2 separate regions of the Homo sapiens genome follow, and region 1 is linked to region 2. Evidence: fine-mapped expression QTL. Tissue or cell type: whole blood. Region 2 holds a variant in brackets; the other region holds the start of a gene. All regions are shown on one strand. Distances are between the middles of the regions.

Evidence for each region. PIP is the estimated chance that this variant, and not a neighbour inherited with it, causes the effect.
Region 1: it holds the start of TYW2, and the variant in region 2 is fine-mapped to the expression of TYW2 in whole blood (INTERVAL, PIP above 0.99).

What each region holds. Positions count from the first base shown.
Region 1 is chr8:124,444,433-124,455,397 of GRCh38, reverse strand. It overlaps TYW2 (tRNA wybutosine-synthesizing protein 2), which reads right to left and starts at 4,578. Exons shown (of 1, transcript NM_017956.4): 1 at 2,372-4,578. The coding sequence starts at 4,470. The coding sequence ends at 3,124.
Region 2 is chr8:124,575,255-124,586,219 of GRCh38, reverse strand. It overlaps MTSS1 (MTSS I-BAR domain containing 1), which reads left to right. Exons shown (of 14, transcript NM_014751.6): 6 at 1,059-1,133. LOC105375740 (a long non-coding RNA gene) reads right to left here. Exons shown (of 2, transcript XR_928608.3): 2 at 5,569-6,642. Among named protein-coding and RNA genes, the nearest start is that of NDUFB9, 42 kb to the right of the region's middle. The variant G/TTG (reference allele first, on the strand shown) is at 4,933.

The DNA.
Region 1 (10,965 bases), 130 kb after region 2:
TAGCCGGGCATGGTGGCAGATGCCTGTAATCCCAGCTACTCAGGAGGCTGAGACAGGAGAATTGCTTGAACCTGGGAGGCGGAGGTTGCAGTGAGCTGAGATCGCTCCACTGCACTCCAGCCTGGGCGACAGAGCGAGACTCCATCTCCAAAAAATAAAAACAAATAAATTATATGAAGGCAGAGCCATGTCAGTCTTACATCACTGCACACACAGGGCCCATATATATATGTATATATTTATTTATTTATATATTTATATATGAATATATATATTATATATGAATATATATATTATATATGAATATATATTATATATGAATATATATATATTATATATGATATATATATTATATGAATATATATATAATATATATATGAGAGAGGGAGAGTGCAAGCATGCAGGAGTCCAACAACTGTTGGTCGAATGAGTTCAACTGGCCACACCTGACATCAGCTGTCTATCCAGAGCTTGTGGCAAAAAGGCAAATCCTCAGTCCCCAGACTGACTCTCTGGCTCCTCTTCCTCATTGTTTCTCCTTGTTCCCTTCCCATATTGGCTCAACCTCCAGGTTGGTATCTTTATAGTTTGAGGACAGCAAGCCATGGACACACAAGTGAGGAAAAACCCACTATGTAAAAGAGGAGATGACTGGCTGGGCATGGTGGCTCATGCCTGTAATCTCAGCACTTTGGGAGGATGAGGCGGGCAGATCACAAGGTCAGGAGATTGAGACAATCCTGGCTAATTCGGTGAAACCCGTCTCTACTAAAAATACAAAAAATTAGCCAGGCGTGGTGACACACACCTGTAGTCCCAGCTACTTGGGAGGCTCAGGCAGGAGAATCGCTTGAACCCAGGAGGCAGAGGTTTCAGTGAGCCGAGATTGTGCCACTGCACTCCAGCCTGGGTGACAGAGTGAGACTCTATCTCAAACAAAAAAAAAAAAAAAAAGGAGGAGATGATTAAGGTAACACAGGAAGACCGCTCTGTGAGATGGGAATGGAAATAAGCAGGCTGTTTGTTTTTGTGGTGGGATCACATGCTGGCTAACATCTCCCTAGGGGATTACTGTGTACAAGACACAGTGCTTTTTTAATCCTTACAACAACCCCCATCTTCAACACATCTCTCACTGCTTCCTCTGTTCCAAACTTATCTAATAACAACATACCATTTTCTGAGGATTCAAACTTTTGCATCTGTTATTCTCTTCTACTAGTGCCTGTTTCTACCCGCAACCTACCCATCAAAATCTTACCCAGTTTTCATGAGCCAATTCAAACACTACCTCTGAAGACTTCACTATTCAGTTCTGAGAACTCCTTTCCCACCTTTTCATTCCTACAACGTGCTATCACTCACATGGCACTCATCTTACTGCATTCCAAGTCTTTCTTTGAGTACTTGTGTTATTTCTGCTGCTAGATTGTGGGTTTCTCAGAGACAGGAACTCTATCTAATGGATCGTTATGTTTCCTGTGGCTTTTGTATATAATAGGCACTTAATATTTGTTGGATAACACAAACAGCACCAACCTGTCCTTACTGCTACTGTTGCAAGAGAAGGATGAGTAGCCATGCCCAAATCCAGCCAGCCAAATGTCAGGTACAATCATACAAGGCCACACTTTTCTATATTTCCTTCACCTAGCAAACCAGCCTAGATAGCTTCAAAATACACCAGAACAAAGCTCTGAGTGGTAATCAACAATTAGTCATCTTGGGTCATGCGTGGTGGCTAACACCTGTAATCCCAGCACTTTGGGAGGTCGAGGTGGGCAGATCACTTGAGGTCAGGAGTTCCAAAACAGCTTGGCCAACATGGTGAAACCCCATCTCTACTAAAAATACAAAAATTACCTGGGCATGGTGCTGCACACCTGTAATCCCAGCTACTTGAGAGTCTGAGGCTTGAGAATCGCTTGAGCCTGGGAGGCAGAGGTTGCAGTGAGCCAAGATGGTGCCACTGCACTCCAGCCTGGGTGACAGAGCAAGACTCTGTCTCAAAAAAACAAAAAAGCAAACAAACAAAACAACAAACAATTATTCACTCCAGTGGCAAACCATCTTTTATGGCAGACAGCCATAAAATAAGGTGAGGCTGGAAATGCTCTGCAGAATATCTCACATTCCCTATAGCTTCTTAGGTTGTCCCTCCTGTTCTCAGCCACGGTAGGAAGATGAAGAGGGAGTATGAGGCCTATACGAATCTAAGATTTTAATAGGAACTTTAAACTAATAAGTATTAATTGGCAGCTATTGCACAAGCTTGAGGCTAGAAATCTAGATTCCCTATGATTTAGAACAGTGATTCGTCCTCAGCAGATGAGCTTTAAAAAAAAAAATAGACTGGTGATTCTTAACCATATTTCTACCACAACAAACCAAATTTATAAGACAACCCCTCACAATCATTTAGGAATGCCACAGTAAGGGAATGGAAATACACTAAAATAATTTTTGTTCCCTTCTCTCTCTAATTTAGTCAGTCATAATAACAAAGCAGCTTCATGTTAAGGACTTAATTCTGATTCCATTGCTTGGTCTGTCAATTTTATTTATCATATCAATCTACCTCCCATTACCACCATCCGAGTCCAAGTTACCATCACCTCAGACCTGGACAACCACAGAAGCCTCCTCACTGGTCTCTCTGTTTCCATCTTGGCCCTCCTTCAGTCAATTTTCTATATGGTAGCCAGAGCAATTTGGAAAAAGCACTGTGTCTTTCACTCTAAAATAACCGATGTCCTGTGTATAGTTGCTTAATAGTCACGTGAGACAGTTCAAAGAAACTCTCATTTTGCAAATAACGAAACCCGAGGCCAAAACATACTGAAACTTCAATTCCAGAACTGAGGTCAGAATTTGGAATTCATAATTGCACAGATGAGCCTCATTTCAATGGGCCATGCTGCTTCTCCCAAACAGGTATTTCATTTTCTGTTATCAATGAAAGACAAATGAAATAATTTGAATTGATCTAGAGCCTGCTTTCAGGGCTATAAAATATGAAAAAAACTGATCACCAGGGGACAAAAGGGATGACAACCTGGACTGAACTGATACATTTAAGGGCCACTCGCACGTGGATCCCATGTGTCCCAGGATCTACCTCCTCTAGCCAACTGAAGGACAGGGGCAGCATTCCAGATCCAGGACTATGTGATCCACATGGGGAGCATAGGATTTCACTGGTTGGATGTGCAGAATTTGTGTCTTCCATGGTTTCCCATGCACCTGCTGAAGAAGAGTGGCGATTCGAGTTTCTGCAGATTCTGCCCACCTTTGCCACTCTGGCTTGGTGGCTGGTGACAGCATTTTTCCCCTAGAATCCCTGGTAGCTCCATTTTTCCATTGGTTGGTGGTAATTTGCTGAGGATACAGCCAATGCTCTTTCTCTACTTTGCTGACTCCAAGAGCCTGAAGATTCTTCCCTGGGAAAGATTCCACATTTTGGTGGATATGCAAAATGCCTCCAGCATCCTGCCTTAACACTTGGCAGGCAATGGGCCAGCCTTCTTCAGAGCTGGGAATCAGCCCCAGGATCACCCTATCTGCAATATTTGAGAGCTTCAGTTTTCTGTTATCTCCAAAGTGTATTTGGCACCGATCTGCTACTCCATTGATCTCAAGGTTATTTCTCAGAGCAACTACAGCATGGGGATTCCACTCACAAGCATGGACGAAGGCAGCACCAGCATGAACTAGGAAAGGCAATGTAAAATAACCAATCCCTGCATAGAGATCCACCAGCACTTCTCCAGCACAGGACAACGATGCCACTCGAAGCTTCTCAGTGATGTTTCCAAAGGAGAACATACACTGGGTCACGTCAAACTTATAACGGATACCATTATCCACATGCTCTACCCAGCCATGGTCACCCAGCAGCAGTGTCACTGCTGGAGTTCGAGTACCATCCGGTGATACCCGCCCTCGTTTTGCCAAACGCTGGACGCCAAGTGCCAAGGCAACGGTCTCCCAGAGTTCCGGTCCCAGATTTTTCCACTGCTTGGCTTGGAAACAGTCTTCACTCAGCAACAAGAGATTACCATGCCGTTGCCATGATCGGGGCAAATCAGCCTCCAACTCGGCTGACCACTTGACTCCCCGACCCTCCACCCAGCGACTCACCTCAAGACACAATTTTTGGGCAGGTGAACAACCCTGGGCCCTCTTCGAAGGAACAGGATCCGGGAGCTGCGTGAGCATACAGGGACTGCCTGGGGCAACACGATTCCTCAGCTCCTGCAGGTGCTGCTCTGGAAGCGTCTCTCCCAGCACCGGTAGCGCCACCGAGCCATCCGGCATCTTTTCCACACGGTGCTGTGTATCAAAGAGTTTCTGCCTCTGGAGATATTCTCTGTATCGCTGGGTAAACCAAGGCTCAGTCACAACTGCGACAACAGCCACGGGCTTCCCACTTTCTCTCTCCATGTTGCTAACAACCACATTCTCTCTCATCACCTCAGCGATACTCCATCTCCTCAGAGTCGGCTCACCAGGCTGACTAAATTCCCGGTCTTAAATAAGGTAGCCTGCAGCTCACCCGGCCATGCCGGTGCCGGAAATGACGTGCAAAGAGGCCGGAACTAAATATATTGATGCGCTTGCTTGAGAATGGCGTTGCCGTTGCTGTGGAGAAGCTGCGGCCGCCATCTTTTTTATGGTCAACCATTACTTTTTTTTCAGCCTAGGAAGACATTTATAACAGGGAATCTTATGGACTAAAAGACTTCAAATTGCTATTTTCCAGAAACCTCATGCACTCTCTTCAGTGCTGCTCATGAATTCAAAGAGAAAAATTAACATGAAATTGTCAGAGGCGCATGAACCAGAGCAACTCCATCTTAAATAGGAGCTGGGTAAAATGAGGCTGAAACCTACTGGGCTGCATTCCTAGACGGTTAAGGCACTCTAAGTCGCCAGATGAGATAGGAAGTCAGCATAAAATACAGGTCAAAAAGACCTTGCTGATAAAACAGGTTGCAGTGAAGGAGCGGCCAAAATCCACCAAAACTAAAATGGCCACGAGAGTGACCTCTGGTGGTGCTCACTGCTACACTCCCACCAGCGCCATGACAGTTTACAAATGCCATGGCAACGTCAGGAAGTTACCCTATATGGTCTAAAAAGGGGAGGCATGAATAATCCACCCCTCGTTTAGCATATCATCTGGAAATAACCATAAAAATGGGCAACCAGCAGCCCTCATGGCTGCTCTGTCTATGGAATAGCCATTCTTTTATTCCTTTACTTTCTTAATAAACTTGCTTTCACTTTGCACTGCGGACTTGCCCTGAATTCTTTCTTGCATGAGATCCAAGAACCCCATGTTGTAGTCTGCATTGGGACCCCTTTCCTGTAACAAAATGATGATCTGAATTTGGAGAAAGCTTTCCCATAGCCTAATGCTGCTCTCAGGTTAGCATCAGCAGCCACCTTATTTTCTGAAAGTGAAGAGTCAGATACAGCTCCCTTTTTCCCTTTTCATGCAGATATAGTCATCACTGTTTCATTGTCCTTTGGTCCAAGAAACAACTATTTGAAAGTCAGAAGGATCTGAGTTCCAGTAAATCGTATCACCCCTCAAAATTGGAATCTTCACTTATAAAATGGAATCTAATCTTCAGAAGATTGCTATAGTGAGTAGAGACATTATAGTGTCTTAGACAATAACTAGTAAAGAGTAGATACTTAAAAAGATACAAAGTAACAAGTTGGCTAGCTCACAGGTACTAAATACCTGTTGAAATGCTTTGATATTCCTAAAGAAGACAAAGGGGAATTCCATATAGACTAAATCAAATAGTTGGATATAAGAACTGTAAAGAAACCCTATCACTTCTACTTCACTCCCGCTGTCAGAGGAGTCCAAACCAGAGTGACTCCATCTTGAATAAAGGCTGAATAAAGCAAAACCTGCTGGGTTACATTCCCAGAAAGTTAAGTACTCTCCATAATAAGACTGAGGCAGGAAAATAGGGTCTGGAGGCAGGGAACCTAAGGCTGATTCACACTGACTTCGTAGAACTAAATCAAAAGGAAAAAACCAACTATCTATGCCTAAGTAACAGAAGGACCAGAGGTTACTCCCTTTGCAAACCTGCTTTTCTGCAGGGCAGAAGGAAAATTGAAAGTACCTCTGATTGGTTGCAGAAAGCCACCAATCAATCCAAATACCCACTAGAGGTTTCCCATTGGCCACTTGGTGTGCACTCCATGCAAATGAAATAATGGCCTCAATCAGACGTTTGCATAGGAGTGCAACTTTGTAACTTTACTTCAGCCTCTGATTGCAGGCCACTACTTCATTTGCATGGGGTGAACACCAAGTGACCAGTAAGAAACCTCTAGTGGGTATTTGGACCCCAGAAGATTCTGTAACCCAGCTGTTGAGCCCCTAGACAGGGGCTGCTCCCATCCTGGGGAGTGTACTTTCATTTTCAATAAATCTGATTTTGTTGCTTCATTCTTTCCTTGGTTTGTACATTTTGTCCAATTCTTTGTTCAAGATGTCACGAACCTGGACACCCTCTACCCATAACAAGACCTTTTGGCTGAACGAGCTAATGATTCTTACTCACTAAACAAGACCCAGAACTTAAGAAGATGTCCTGATATCTTGAGAACAGAAAGCATTATTAGTTTAAGAATAGGTTTCTCTTTAAAGATAATAGTATTTTCATAAATGTTTGCTGAAATCAATAGTTACACAGAGAATAACACTACTAATACTCTGTCACAAGTGGATCACAAGCTGTTGTACTAAAGCACATGAGACCATTATTCTTAGCTAGCTACATAATTTTTGGTGTGGGGTCCTCCTCTCGCCTTCTGAGAACACCCTACTCTGTAATAGAGTAGTCTTTAATAAACTTGCTTCTTTCACTGTGCTCTGTGACTGGCCCTAAATTCTTTCCTGTCTGAGATCCAAGAACCTGTTTTTTGGGTCTGGAACAAAATTCCTTTTAAGTAACATTTCCTGTGGCAACTCCCAAGGACTTTATTGAGGTGAGACCTTCAACCCAAAAGAAATAGACTGCGCAGGACCAACTGACTGACTTTGGGTAAGAAGGGGAATACATTTTTATACCGATGAAGGACAAGGACACTTATCTAAGATTGGGTTTGAGGCCTACTTGGGAGGATTAAAGGCCCCTCACAGCTGAAAATGGGTTTAGCACAATGGGATGTTAACCATTATTCACTGTGGATTCGTCCTCCTTGTGCTCTCTGTAAGAGCTTTCCAAAGGCTGCCACTTGCCAGTTTCCTGATTGCTTTCTATGCTTTACTGCTACTTTATGAGAGAGATCTTGTTGAACTGGTCCTGAGGTTTTTAACTTTCCTTTTTCTTGTTTGCCTTTGGGTTATGGGCCATTTGCCTGTTGTTCTGGCATGTTGCTAGAAGACATTGGGGACAAATGGCTCTGTAATATTTACTTTCCCTAGATCTAGACCACTTAAATGAATTGTTTATTGTCTCTCCTTTTTTGCAAAGCTTACTTGGAATTTCGCATTTACAAGTTTTAAATGAAAAGGTCCAATGTGAAAGATTAAGCCTGGCAGCAATTATACCAGTCCCCCCTAGGTGAACTGCTCCAGGATGGAAAACTGGAGATTGCTTTTCAGCAGTTCTTTTTCATCTCCTTGCTAATGGAATGACTTTTACTTTTTGGTTACAAATGGCAAGGCCATGTAAATCTTGTCCTGCTTGCCGCTACTGGCCTGAACTTGGACATTCCTTTCTAGAACTTTGTCATTTCCCTTCTCTAGTGAAACATTTCTTTTGCTGAGTCCCCTATTGTGGTCTTTACTTTTGATTACCTAATAATCTTTTGGTTTCTGTGTTAACTTGGACAATTCTTCCCCGTGGGTTTAGGGACAGGCTTTACTTTCTTCCTTTATGTGGCTGAGAAACAAGGGACAGCCCTAAATGTTCTTGTCTAGAAACAGGGATACATCCCTTGACCCATGGCATATTTTTCTAACCAATTGACCATGTGGCTTCAGGATGACTCAGATGTTTCAGGGCAGTTGCAACAACTGCTCTTCTCATAGATGAAGACAATAAATTAACTTTGGGACAACATCTGGAGGTTTTGACCCCACACCAAATAACAGAGGCCCTAGAAGCTAAAGGGCACCAATAGATGAGTAGGGGATAGTTATTAAATTATCAGGCTTTATTGCTAGATACTCTTGATATAACTCTTAAAGTATAACAGAAGACCTTAATCCTAGCTACGTATCTACTTGGATCCAAAGGCACCCTAGATCATTCATGTACACAAGCTATGGAACAAATTTATTCCAGCTGGCAGGATTTAAAAGACGGGCCACTAGGGCTGGGTGTGGTGGCTCACACCTGTAATCCCAGTACTTTGGGAGGCTGAGGCAGGCGGATTACTTGAGGTCAGGAGTTCCAGAACAGCCTGGCCAACATGGTGAAACCCCATTTGTACTAAAAATACAAAAATTACCTGGGCGTGGTGGTGCACACCTGTAGTCCCAATTACTCAGGAGGCTGAGGGAGGAGAATCACTTGAACCCAGGAGGCAGAGCTTGCAGTAAGCCAAGGTCATGCCACTGCACTCCAGGCTAGAGACAGAGCGAGACTCTGTCTCAAAAAAGGATAATAATTTTAAAAAAGAATTAACATGTACACAAACTCCAAGTATGGCTTTCTGGTGCTTCATGCTCATGCTGCTATTTGGAAATAATGGGGACTCTTTAACTTCTAAGGGCTCCCCTATAGAACATTATTTGGGAATTTTAAATCTACTAGATGCTTCCTTGCTGCCTAAGGAAGTTGCTGTGATTCACTGCAAGGGACATCAAAAAGAAAACTCCAAAATATGCCAGGCACTGTGGCTCACACCTGTAATCCCAGCACTTTGAGGGGCTAAGGCGGGCGGATCATGAGGTCAGGAGTTCGAGACCAGGCTTGCCAACAGGGTGAAACCCCATCTCTACTAAAAATACAAAAATTAGTTGGGCGTGGTGGCTCGTGCCTGTAATCCCAGCTACCTGGGAGGCTAAGGCAGGAGAATTGCTTGAACCTGGGCAGCAGAGGTTGCAGTGAGCCTGAGATCGTGCCATTGCACTCCAGCCTGGGCAACTTGAGCAAGGCTCTGACTCAAAAAAAAAAAAAAAAAGAAAAAAAAGAAAAGAAAAGAAAGAAAGAAAACTCCAAAATAATAAAAGGGCATTCTTTTGCAGATGCTACAGCTGAGGCAGCTTCATTTGAGGGAACCAGTTAATCTGGTAGGCATGTTGGTGCCCACTGCCTTGGTGACGATAAAACTAGAGCATGGTTAATACTAGAAAAGAACAAAAATGGGCTAAGACCCATGGGTTAACTATAAGCACTTCCAGATGGCTAATTGATGAAAATGACAGATGATATGTACCAAGAGCTGATCAATGGAAAATAGTTAAGTATTGGCATGGCTCTACTCATTTGGGAAGAGATTTCTCATTTCAATTAATATGGCTCATCTGTTTATAGGGAAAGACTTTCTTTTTTTTTTTGAGACGGAGTCTCGCTCTGTCACCCAGGCTGGAGTGCAGTGGTGTGATCTCAGCTCACTGCAACCTCTGCCTCCTGGGTTCAAGCAATTCTCTGCCTCAGCCTCCCGAGTAGCTGGGATTGCAGGCATCTGCCACCATGCCCAGCTAATTTTTGTATTTTTAGTAAAGACAGGGTTTCACCATGTTGGCCAGGCTGGTCTTGAACTCCTGACCTCGTGATCCACCCACCTCAGCCTCCCAAAGTGCTGGGATTACAGGCGTGAGCCACCGTGCCTGGCCGAAAAGACTTTCTTAGAACAGTAAAACAAGTGACTTGGGCCTGTGAATTGTGTGCCCAAAAAAACCTCAAACAACCAAACTTTACCTCCTCCATTAGTAAAGCCTGTTCAGCATAGGGGGTCGTACCCAGAAGAAGATTGGCAAACACACTATACCCAAATGCCCCCATGTAAAGGATTCCAATATTTATCAGTGTTGGTTGATACCTTTCTTTACATGTTGGATTGAAGCTTTTCCTATCTGGCCTGAAAAGTCAATCAAGGTTTCTAAATTTTCATTCAAGGATATGATTCCCAGATTCAGGTTGCCTAAAAGCTTGTAGAGTGATAATGGCCCATCTTTACAGCAACAATAACCAAGACATAGCATCCGCTCTAGGAATTCAATATGGTCTTCATTCCGCATGGAGGCCACAGTCTTCAGGAAAAGTAGAAAGGACCAATCAAATTTTAGACAGGACCCTTGCTAAGCTCTGACAGGAAACATCAGAAACCTGGCTCCGTCTATCGCCTGTGGCCTCGCTGCAAGTTTGGGCTGCCCCAGTGGAAGGCTCAGCCCTTTTGAAATAATGTACGGAAAGCCTTTCTGAAAGAATTGCTGATTTCCTAGTAGATGGAGATACTTTCAAATTACAGAATTATGTTGCCAACTTAGGTCAGGTGCAAAAAGCTCTTCTTGAATACAGAAATGAGAGACTTCCTTCCCTCACTAAGGAAAAAAATCCTATTGTAATCCAGCCAGGAAATGGGATCCTGTTAATGACTTGAAAAAATGGTCCCTAGCAGATCAACTTTCCCACAGTGGAAAGGACCCTACTAAGTAAGTACTCCTTAGTGCCTCAACCGCAGTTACACTTCAAGGAAGAAGCAGCTGGGCTCATTGATCTTGAATTAAGTCTGTTTCTTATGAAGTCCCACAGGCTGCTGGAACACAAGAGACTGATTCCACTTATTCCTGTGAACCAACCAGTGATATCTGGCTCCTGCTTAGAAGAAACAAGAAAGATAAATAACATAAAAATCTGGATTAATATCCCAATTCTGGACACATATTGGTATTAGCTAAGAGGCAATCTCTTTGCTGGCTGGGCACAAACTTCAGCCTCCCTACACAACAAAATGGATTGCCGGGTGTGTGGAGAACTA
Region 2 (10,965 bases):
TGCAAGGGAGCTGGCCAAGGTGAAATGTACAGCAGCTGGCAATTAATTGACTGTGAGGGCAGCAAAGGGAAAAGTGTCACAGGTGACCATCATCCCAGGTGTCTATGTCTGGGTGATGAGGATGCCAGCAACAGAAATGGGGCAGTCTGCGAATGGGCCAGTGGTGGAGGAGGAAGTGCTTGGCAGGGGATGTGGTGCACTTGGACTGCCCCTCTGAGGTGTTTGTGGTATCTAGCCACAGGATTCATGCTGAAAGTAAGGCAGCTGGTTCTTCTTGCCCAGTCTCCCCACTGTGTGATCTAGCTTCTCCTGCTGTATGAGACACTTTTTCTGGATTTTAACATCTGCCCAGCATCTTTTCCACATAGGGGTTTTTTGTTTTTTGTTTGTTTTTTTGTTTTTGCAAAACACTGTGGATTTGGGCCCGGGGAAAGTAGATAATATTGAAAAATCTTTCCGGATACTTGAGCTGAGAAATTGTGAATTTTTTTCATTTTTACTAAAGTATTCCCCGCCAGGCATGGTGGCTCATGCCTGTAATCCCAGCACTTTGGGAAGCCAAGGATCACTTGAGGTCAGGAGTTCAAGACCAGCCTGGCCAACATGGTGAAACCCCATCTCTACTAAAAGTACAAAAATTAGCTGGGCGTGGTGGTGGGCGCCTGTAATCCCAGCTACTCAGGAGGCTGAGGTGGGAGAATCGCTTGAACTCGGGAGGTGGAGGTGGCAGTGAGCCGAGATCATGCCACTGCACTCCAGCCTGGGCCACAGAACAAGACTCTGTCTTAAAAAAAAAAAAAGTATTCCCAAACGGAGCCTCCCTTCAAAGCTGGTATGAGTGAATATGACAGGGCAAGACCACTGTGCATTTTGTTTTCGTGTCTCTAGCCCCTTTGTTGTAAATGTCATCATGAGATTATCATATTGTATTCTGATAAAGCCATTGACGGCATGTCACAGTTTATGCTTTCTGTGATAAATGTAATGGCTGTTTCCTACCTAACATATTTTCTGTTAAGCAAAGTGGTAAAATTGTTCCATATTCTGCTTTCTCTTAGAATATAAGAAAGCCCGCCAAGAGATAAAAAAGAAGTCCTCGGATACGCTGAAACTGCAGAAGAAAGCAAAAAAAGGTAACTCCTAAAATTCTGCCACTGATGTTACTTCCTGATGGAGTACTTGATTTGTTTTTGAAGTGAAAGGTGTTCACTTCAGAGACTTCCTTAAGTATGACGGCCCTGGAAAACAGGTGGGAGCAAATAGGACCTATCTGAGTTCACATTCTCAAAGTGCAGAATAGGTATTAATTTGAGGCCTTTGCCAAGTGGTACTTGACGTGTTCCTTCCCCCACCTTTGTCTTCCAAGTTTGACAGTTTCCATGCCTATTGTGCTTCGTAATGATACCTATAAATTTCTTAGAAGCCTTGGGATAATGCAGAAAGGCCTTTATGCAAATGTTCTCTAGTAATTATTACAGAAATTATGTCATTTTCTCCTGCAGCTTTCACAGCCTATAATCTTCAAAACCCTTTATTAAGTCTTGTGAGAATGCTAGGAATGGGTGCAGGGGAAGCTGGGAGTCATGGCCATACAGGGGATTTTCCATGGTGTTCATGAGGGAGGAGCTTGATAATCTACCACTGAGCACAACCAGGCAAGATGCCTTTCCCCCACATCCTTGTTTATCCTCCTTCACAAACAAATGAATCGTCAGATCTTTGACCCACCTTTGTTCCTCCAGAATGGACTGGGAGTTTGAAGAGAAAAATCTAGCAGCATCCACTTTGCAAGCACTTGTGACATTTTACTACCACCTAAAAATGTAGGGACTTTCTCCTGAGCTAGAGAAGGTGACATTCCTTCCAGTCTATTCTTCTTTGACACCAAGTTTCTGAATCTGCTGCTTCACAACTGATAAGATGGGATTCTTCCGTCAGGCTGCTCTGTGGGTGGTGTTTACCATTAATTTGAGACAACCTTTTCGAGTTGGGATCCCCCAGCCTGAATTTTCTCTCCCCTAAACCAGCGTTCTCTGTTGGAAATAGAAGACACATTTGTAGAGATGGGATTGTGGAGGGTGGTGTGTAGTGGGGTGATGATAGGACACAGTTTTTAACCTTGAACATTTCTATAAAATGAGCCCCCCACCCTGAATTTTCACAACAACCATAAACCCATTTTGAGATAAAGGCAGCAGAATTTTCACCCACAATCAGATTTTCCATCAGCATTGGCCCCAGCAGTTTCTTTCGTATGTTTTATTTTAGTCTGGAGCTTCTCAGATTTGTATCCTATCTAACCAGGGCACCTGGGAGCTAGTGTTTGACAAGTAATAGGGTTTGTGACATAGTAACATTTTAGTGACTGTAGAGGTAAGCATTTATAAGTAAAATTACTACCATATTCCATGAAGTCTGAGGCCCGGAAGAGAGCAGGCTGGTCACAGTTCGGGGCTGAACTCCACATAACTGACAGGTTGGCAGCTTTGAGAGAGGAAGGATTCCTGGGCTGGGAGAGGTGGTCCAGGGAAGATGCTTAGGCTTAGAAAAGGTTTGGGAGTTTGGTGAAAAGGATGAAGGAAGAAAAAGTGGCTGTTTTCCCTCAGCTCTTCCACCACTCAGTTTTCAGAGGCCCTAAGTTCTTGGCTACAGTGATAATCCTTTTATCTAAGTTCTGCATGGAGGCTGAATTGGTTGTCCTCTGTCACTCAAAGTCACTGGCATTGCCCAATTAGCAGAATTTATACCTCTGGGTGAAGCCTGATAGGGTGATTGCAATGCAACATCAAAAGAAGTTTCTGGCAATTAGACCTTCCTAGCACTGGCTCGGGCTGCCTGCAGGATAATGAGCTCCCTATCAAGGCTGGATAGGAAGATATGGGACCCATAGAATGCTGGACTGTGCATAACATGAAGAGAGGCATCTGGCCCTGGGACTTGGGAATGATTGGCATTCAGTTGTGTGGTTTCTTAGGGCACATTGGCCTGACAGATGAGAGAATGGAGGTTGGGATCAGGGGTTTCTGAAGCATCTGTCTTCTCAGCCACAGCCTCACACCAGCAGTCTCTGGCACCGTGTCTTTTCCACACGGTGGACTTAGGTCCACGAGATCGGTCAGATCCATAGCTTGGAATGTTCTAGAGAATTTCTAGTTACTTCAAGATACCACCAGAAAATAATTTTTATTTCTGTCCTTTATAAAGATTTTTTTCTAAAATCAGTAAGTGCAGTTTTGGACCAGGTGTTCTATTTGTATATTTCTGGGATGAAAGCAGCCTTCTGAAAGGTACTAGAGTCACATTCGGACTGGAATCTTTTATGGAGAGCTCTCCTAGGAGGCATATGTATGGCTGAGAATGGACTGAAGAAAACACAACTCACTTAAGGGCTGGAAGAAATCTGGTCATTTGAGGCTTTCAGTTGTTTAGGGGTCTGGTTAGCTGACATTTCCCTTTCTACTAGAACACCTCGAGGGATCTGTTTCATCTCCTTCAAGTGGCAGATTCCCGGACCCTCGGTTTGTAAAAGTGTTAGCAGTTCCTTCTGACGCACCACGCGTTCGGATGGATGAAGGTTTTGGATACATTTTTTTTTTTGTCCTGATAGACGGAATCTGATGTATGCAGCCAGATAATCACTTCCTTTTTAATATGTTTCCAGGAGATTCTCAAGCAGCTTCCTGCCATGCCTTTTTCAAAAACTCTGATCTTTGATCTAAAAATTCTCTGGACTCTCCTTTTAGCATTTCAAGTGCCTTTGTGCATGTAAGCATGGTTTTACCACCATCCTTGACGTGGGCAGACACACACGGATGTGATTTTTGTGAGCGGCTCACTTTCCTTCTTACTCTGCAGATACCACCTTTTATCACATTCTTCGACTCTTTCTTACTATATAGAGAGGTGGTTTGTAATCTAAAGGTGTTTAAATATTTCCTTCAAGAAACTTTCAATGGTTTGCCTTTGGTAGGTTTTATCTCAAAATCATTTTTTAGCAGCTTGGGATATGCTATGGCTGTGGATGAGTGTGCCTGTTTTTCTTGAAGGCAAGCTTGTCAGATGCCTACTAGAAGTAAACACGAGGCAAGGAGTTAGCCAGTCCTCACCCTCAGAGAAATTCTGGGCTCGTGCACAGGGTCAAGAGCACGGGGCAGAGCCAGCATTGCCGACAGGTGGAGGGACGGAGGCGGCAGGATGCTGGGGAGATGGTGTGGAGCGGACCCAGTAACCCCAGGCTCTGAACAGTGTCTCTTGAGCCCTCTTCCTGCTCCATGATAATCAGCTTATTGCCTTGGAGGTCTTGGAGTTGACCACGACCCAATGGGGAAAAGTAAGAGAGAGCATCAGAAATGAGAGGCGTTTTACATTGTATTTACCTACGTGTGCCACCCAACCGTATGAACTCAGCAGCCTTATTCTCATTTAACTCCCATGTTACTATCAATGTGAATTAAAAATTAATTCTGGGCTGTGCGTGGTGGCTCACGCCTGTAATCCCAGCTCTTTGGGAGGCTGAGGCGGGTGCATCATGAGGTCAAGAAATCGAGACCATCCTGGCCAACATGGTGAAACCCCATCTCTACTAAAAATACAAAAATTAGCCGGGCGTGGTGGCGGGCGCCTGTAGTCCCAGCTACTCGGGAGGCTGAGGCAGGAGAATTGCTTGAACCTGGAAGGTGGAGGTTGCAATGAGCCAAGATTGCACCACTGCACTCCAGCCTGGGCAACGGAGGGAGACTCTGTCTCAAAAAAAAAAATAAAAAAATTCTGGTAAAGCCTTCTGTTTCCATCTGTAACTACAAAAAGTTTATAAGGGATTTTTAAAAATAATAATGGCCAGCATTCATTAGGTACTTATTATGGTCACTGTTCCACTTATTACCATGACATCATTAAATCTAAGAAGTCTTGATTTTTTTTTTTTTTTTTTTT[G/TTG]AGTCAGCATCTCACTAGGTGGCCTAGGCTGACCTCAAACTCCTGGGCTTCAGGGATCTTCCCGCCTCAGCCTCCCTAGTAGCTGGGATTACAGGCACACACCACTGCGCCCAGCAGGGACTTTTCTTGAGAGAGAGAGAACTGGAACATTATAATATGTTAACTGCACAGCTGACATGTAAATAGTTGACTCTCTCACTTTCCACTAGAGGCTGCAAAGCCAATGTTATAAATGTAATAAACAGACTCACAGAGTTCTATACGAGCATAGTATTTGCTGTTATACTACAATTTTAAACTCTTTAATTTTTTTTTTCCATTTTCATCCCACCCTAAGCTTTGTTTCCTAGGAATTTCCTAGATATTTTTCAAGTGATGGTAAATGACACTCGAAAGGTTTTCTTGCCAAAGCTTGGCTTCTTCTGGGTATATATTCTTCATCTCTCTTTTTAAAAATCCTTGCTGTCTTCTCTAGGGGTGGTCATTACTAACTGGGAAGGTTTTGTTTAGATGAGAAGGAAGGAAGATATTAGTAAGGCAGAGAAGGGGAATGTGGATGTGGGTTTAATCAGCCCTAATAGAAAATTTGGTGGCGAGCCATGGACTGTTTAACACATGAAACAAAGGTAAGACTGCTGCTGCTTGAATACCAGTTTGACTTTATTATTTTCCTTTTTGTGTCAATTGTGTATCCTGCACTTTCTCACCGTGTGCCCCCCCGCCAGTGGACACTCTTGGTAAGTCTACCATCCCAAATCTCTGGTGGCTGCTCACGGTGTGGTCCTTGCTGTGGGCTTTCCGTGGTTGTCCAGACCTCTGCTAGCTGCCCAGGTTTTTCTACCAGCTCAAAACAATCAACTGTGCCTACCTAATTTTCCACAACTTTAAGAAAATTGTGTGTGCGTTGTGTTTTAATTGTTTTCTTTTTTGGATGTTTAGCCATTTACGATGTTAGCACAACACTCTGAGAGCCTTTGAATCATCGTAATTCAATATTAGACTCATGGAAAAAAGAAATACAGAGTGACTTAAACTGTCATTTCCACAGTCAATAAGCATTTTTGCATACATATATACCTGCGTATGTATGTATGTATATATTTATGCCACAAACAGAGCTGCAAGCCTCAAAATAATTCTCAAATCAGATTTGGTTGTGTTAAGCTTGCAAAACATCTTTAACTTTGTCCTGTCTGCAAGACCATATAGTTCTTTCCATAACCAATGATTCATTTTTTAAAAAATAAATCAAAAGTATTTCTTATTTCAGTAGAGTTTGTGAAATGTTTCATTTCAGAAGTATCAGATCTTCCAATTAAGTAATCAGAATGATTCTTCTTGACTGAATGTTGAACTTCACTCTGTGGATGATCATGCTGCCAAAACTTCAAGTTGCTTTTGGAGTCTTGTTGCTGTCCCTCTGTCCTGGGAGGTCTGTCTGCGAGGTGTCTGTGTGGTTTATCTTGCCTGAGTGTGCCCAGGTGTTCCCTGAGCATTTTACTGAACAGCTCCAAAGAGGCTTTTGAAGTGGCTTCTGTCATTTACAGCAAACCCAGTGCACAAAGGTCTCCTTTGATGGTTGGGGCTGACACGGCCTCTATTTCCCCTCATGGCGATGTTGGGCTAGTGGTTCCCCAACTTTAAAAAGGATCATCCTTTCCAGTTCTCAACATTGTGATTATGAAACAGCTTGCACAGTTTCTAGTAAACCTTTGGAAGGAAGGTAAGACACAGTCACTGTTTTGCTTATTGCAGTAAAATTCACATCACAGAATTTATCATTTTAGCCGTTCTGAAGTATAAGTTTCAGTGGCTTTTAGTACATTCATGGTGTTATGCAACCATCGCCACTATCTAATTTCACAACATTTTCATTATCCCCGAAAGACACCTCATGCCCATTAAGCAGTCCCTCCCTGTTTCACAGTCTCCCCACCCACGCTGACCCTGACAACCACTCATCTGCCTTCTGTCTCTGGATTTGCCTATTCTGGACATTTTATACAAATGGAATCATGTAGTACACAGCCTTTTGAGGACACAGTCCCTTGAGTCTTGAGTTTTACTGGAACCTTTGCCGAGAGCCTGACATGAGTCAGTTCATGGAGTAAATAGAGCATTTTATTTATTTGAAATGATGGGAGGTCAGTTTGGAATGAATAAAGAAACTGTATAGCCTTTTGACTTTGTAAGTTCTAAAGATTCTGCTTATCTTTCAAAGAGAAATCTCTGCAACCCCCTTTAATTTTTTCTCTTGTAGGGGCTGGTTCATAGGCAAAGCCACAGTGAATTTGGGTATAAATACACAAGAAAAGCTATATGATTTGTAGCTCTCATAAATGTTTAAAATATTTATACAGAGAGAAAAAAATAATTCTTTAATTATTTTTAACAGTTGGCTTGGCTGGGCGCGTTGGCGTGGTGGCTCATGCCTGTAATCCCAGCACTTTGGGAGGCCTAGGTGGGCAGATCACCTGAAGTCAGGAGTTCGAGACCAGCCTGGCCAACATGGTAAAACCCCATCACGATCAGTGACACGATCTCGGCTCACTGCAACCTCCGTCTCCTGGGTTCAAGCAATTCTCCAGCCTCAGCCTCCCAAGTAGCTGGGATTACAAGTGCCTGCCACCACACCCGGCAAATTTTTCTATTTTTAGTAGAGACGGGGTTTTGCCATGTTAGGCAGGATGGTCTTGAACTCCTGACCTCGGGTGATCCTGTTGCCTTGGCCTCCCAAAGTGCTGGGATTACAGGTGTGAGCCACCCTGCCAGCCAGTGCTGGGATGAATATAAGCAAAAGGTGTAACCTGGGGGCAGAGAGGAAGGAGCCTCACTAAGCCTGGGGGTAGGGTAGTGATAATGAGGAGGAGCATGAGGGGTCAGCTGTTGAAGAATGAGGAGGGGATATTCAAGGTGGAGAGGACAGCGTGCACCAACACATGGCTCTTGTCATTTAGAAAGGAGCATCAGCAACAGTGGTGAAGGGTAGACGTGTCACACTGTGTGTGTGATGCTCCAGGGACAGCCTTGAGGCAGGGCTGTCGTCCCACCAAGGGTGGACTGTGTGCATAGAGAACCATAGTGACCCCTGGCTACTCAGCCTCTGGCTTCCTGGACCGCGTCTCCCCACCCCACACTGACCTGCCTCCAGAATGGTTCAATCACTGGGCCTCGATTCTGATCAGACTCCAAAGTGGACCCCAAATGCCTCTCCACGTCATTCTTCCTTTCTTGGAAAAAGCCTGTGAAATGTGAATCCTTTCCTCTAGGCACAGTGGTTTGCTCATCCCCCAGCCGTATCCAGCCTATGCACTCACCCACAGGAATGTTTCTTGTGTTTACAAAACCAGCAGAAAGCACTCTCAGAATGACCCTGAGACCTGCAGTCAATGGATCAATGGCTCTGCCTCTATGGTAAAAATTGAATCTGTGTAGATTCCCTGCAACCCCACCCCCATTGATTTTTGAGGAGGGATAGTACTAGGAGCTCTCCTTCCCACAGGGATGTCAGTGGAGTGAGGAGGAAGAACAAGGAGCAGAGGGTGGGATGGTTCCAGCCAGTTCTTCGAGGCTAAGCCCAGGGCTTAGAAGGCTGATGAGGAAATACAGAATGTAGGCACAGCCAGACCCCTTCTGTCTGGGTGGAAGCAGGGATGCTAGAATTTTACCCTTAGACCTATTGTGACCATCAGAAAGCTGCCCCTGACCTGAATCCATAGATGTCTGAATTTAACTCAGAAATCTCCTCCAAGGCCGGGCACAGTGGCTCATGCCTGTAATCCCAGCACTTTGGGAGGATCACTTGAGGTCATGAGTCTGAGACCAGCCTGGCCATCATGGCAAAACCCTATCTCTACTAAAAATACAAAAGTTAGCTGGGTGTGGTGGCGTGCACCTGCATTCTCAGCGACTTGGGATGCTGAGGCAGAAGAATCGCTTAAACCTGGGAGGCAGAGGTTGCAGTGAGCCGAGATCGCTCCACTGCACTCCAGTCTGGGTGACAGAGTGAGACCCTGTCTCCAAAATAAAAGAAATTTACTGCAAAGGGATGTTGCATTTCAGGTGAATGTATGTAGCCTTCAGAGGCCGGGCTATTTATTAGATGTATTTTATAACTGAGGATTCTAGGTAAACACAAGCCAAACAGATCCACCAGAAGCCTAGAGCTGTGAACTCTTCCTTTGCAAAGCTTGTCTCCAGTAAAACCTCACGTAGACACAACTCCTTGAGTGCCTTGCCCACTACTCTGGTCTCAGAATGCCCTGGGTGTGCCTGTACACAATAGGACTGTTAAGGTGCAGTGCACCTGACTTCCCTGTGGCTGCATTCAGGGGCAGGGTAGAGGTATATAGAGTATGGAGGCACGCCGGGAGCTGAGTATTTTTCTTAGCGTTAATTTTCGACCAAATACAAAACAGCAGAGAAGGAAACAGACAACTTGCTTGAAATATTTATTCCTTGCATAATATGGTTTTCATCTCCCTAGAGAACACTAACGGGATGGGCAAAGCCTGACGGAATGGCAGGGTGGGGAAGCAGTTGCTGCCTCTCTTGAGTTGCAACCCATCAGCCATTTATGGTTTTTGTAGGACTAATTGATTCACGCCTGGTGCCATTCTTCCATTCATAAACATCCTTGACTGCTGCAGATGAGTCCTGCAAAACACTCCAGCCTCCATTTATTAGTTTGTTCTTTCATTCATTCATTCAGGAAAGGGGTATGACAAGCCTCCTCTGTGCTAGACTCTGTTAGCTGCTAAGGAGGTAAAAGTAGCATCTACACTCAAGCTCTCCCCAGCACGAAGAATGCATTTATGTTCCAACATCAATTCTCTGACTGCAGCTGCTGTCCTATTCAGTTATGACACACCTAGTGTTAGTGTAGACCCCACAAGCTAAGAGTTCAGTCCCATGAGACTGCCCCAAATTCAGTCACCAGCCACAAGTGGGGTCCTCAGATTCCTCACACTTCTGCCCAGCCGACCACAAATTTGGGGTTTTCTATGACCCCCTCGCCCATCAAGTTTAATAATTCTCTAGAAGGACTTGCAGAACACAGGAAAGCACCATATTTACAATGACTGGCTTCTTATAAAGAATGCAGATTGTAGCCTTGTTTACTACATTAAAGGACTCTGCTGAAGCCCTTGAAGCCTTTTTGGCTTCTAGATAATTCCACCGTGACAGTGTGTATTTGGATTAGACTGTGGCTTAACTGGACATCCAGTTAGCAAGTGGTGGTTGTTGTCTAGGTGACAGATGATGGTGGCCTGGGCTCAGGGAAGTGACCACAGAGATAGAGAGGAAGACAGGTGGATTCAAGAGCTACTTAGGAGAAATGCAAATGAAAGAAGGAAGAGTTGAAGGCAATGGTAAATTTCTGGATCCGGTAGTCAGGTTGGCAGATGGTGGAGTATTTCTTTAACCACCAAGGAAGAAGCATTTTGGAGCCGTGAGGATGCTCTGTTGGAGACACTCTGGATGGTGAGCTGCAGGTTGGCCTGGGACGTTTTCTAGTTGTTCTCTGAAATGTCTCTTTTTATCCTTTGCTTTGATAAACAACTGATTGCCCAGGGACCAGTGAAGAATCTTGATGATAAAACTCCTACTTGTAGTGAAAGAATCATGGGATCTTTTGCATTTTCTTACATCAAAAACGACCTTGAACTGAAAGCTCTCTTTAAAAAACAAACAAACAAACAACAACAACAAAAAACCCACCCTACCCTGCATACTATCACCTGCTAAACTACCCAGTGTCAGAAGGACAACTTCAGAGATGCTGTGGTGGCAGCTGATAGTGCCTGACATTTAGTGAGTGCTCAGCACGTGCCGGGCGTTGTTCTGAATGCTTCATGTGGATTAGTTCATTTCCCCTTCCAGCAGCCCTGTGAGCTCAATACTGTTATTATTTACATCCCACAGGTAAAGGGAAACTGGGGCACAGTAGGTTGAAAAATAACGGAAATTGAGTTTGTTTGAAAAATTTTAAGGCTAAAAGCCTTCAGTCTTATCTAATCACATCTATCTTTT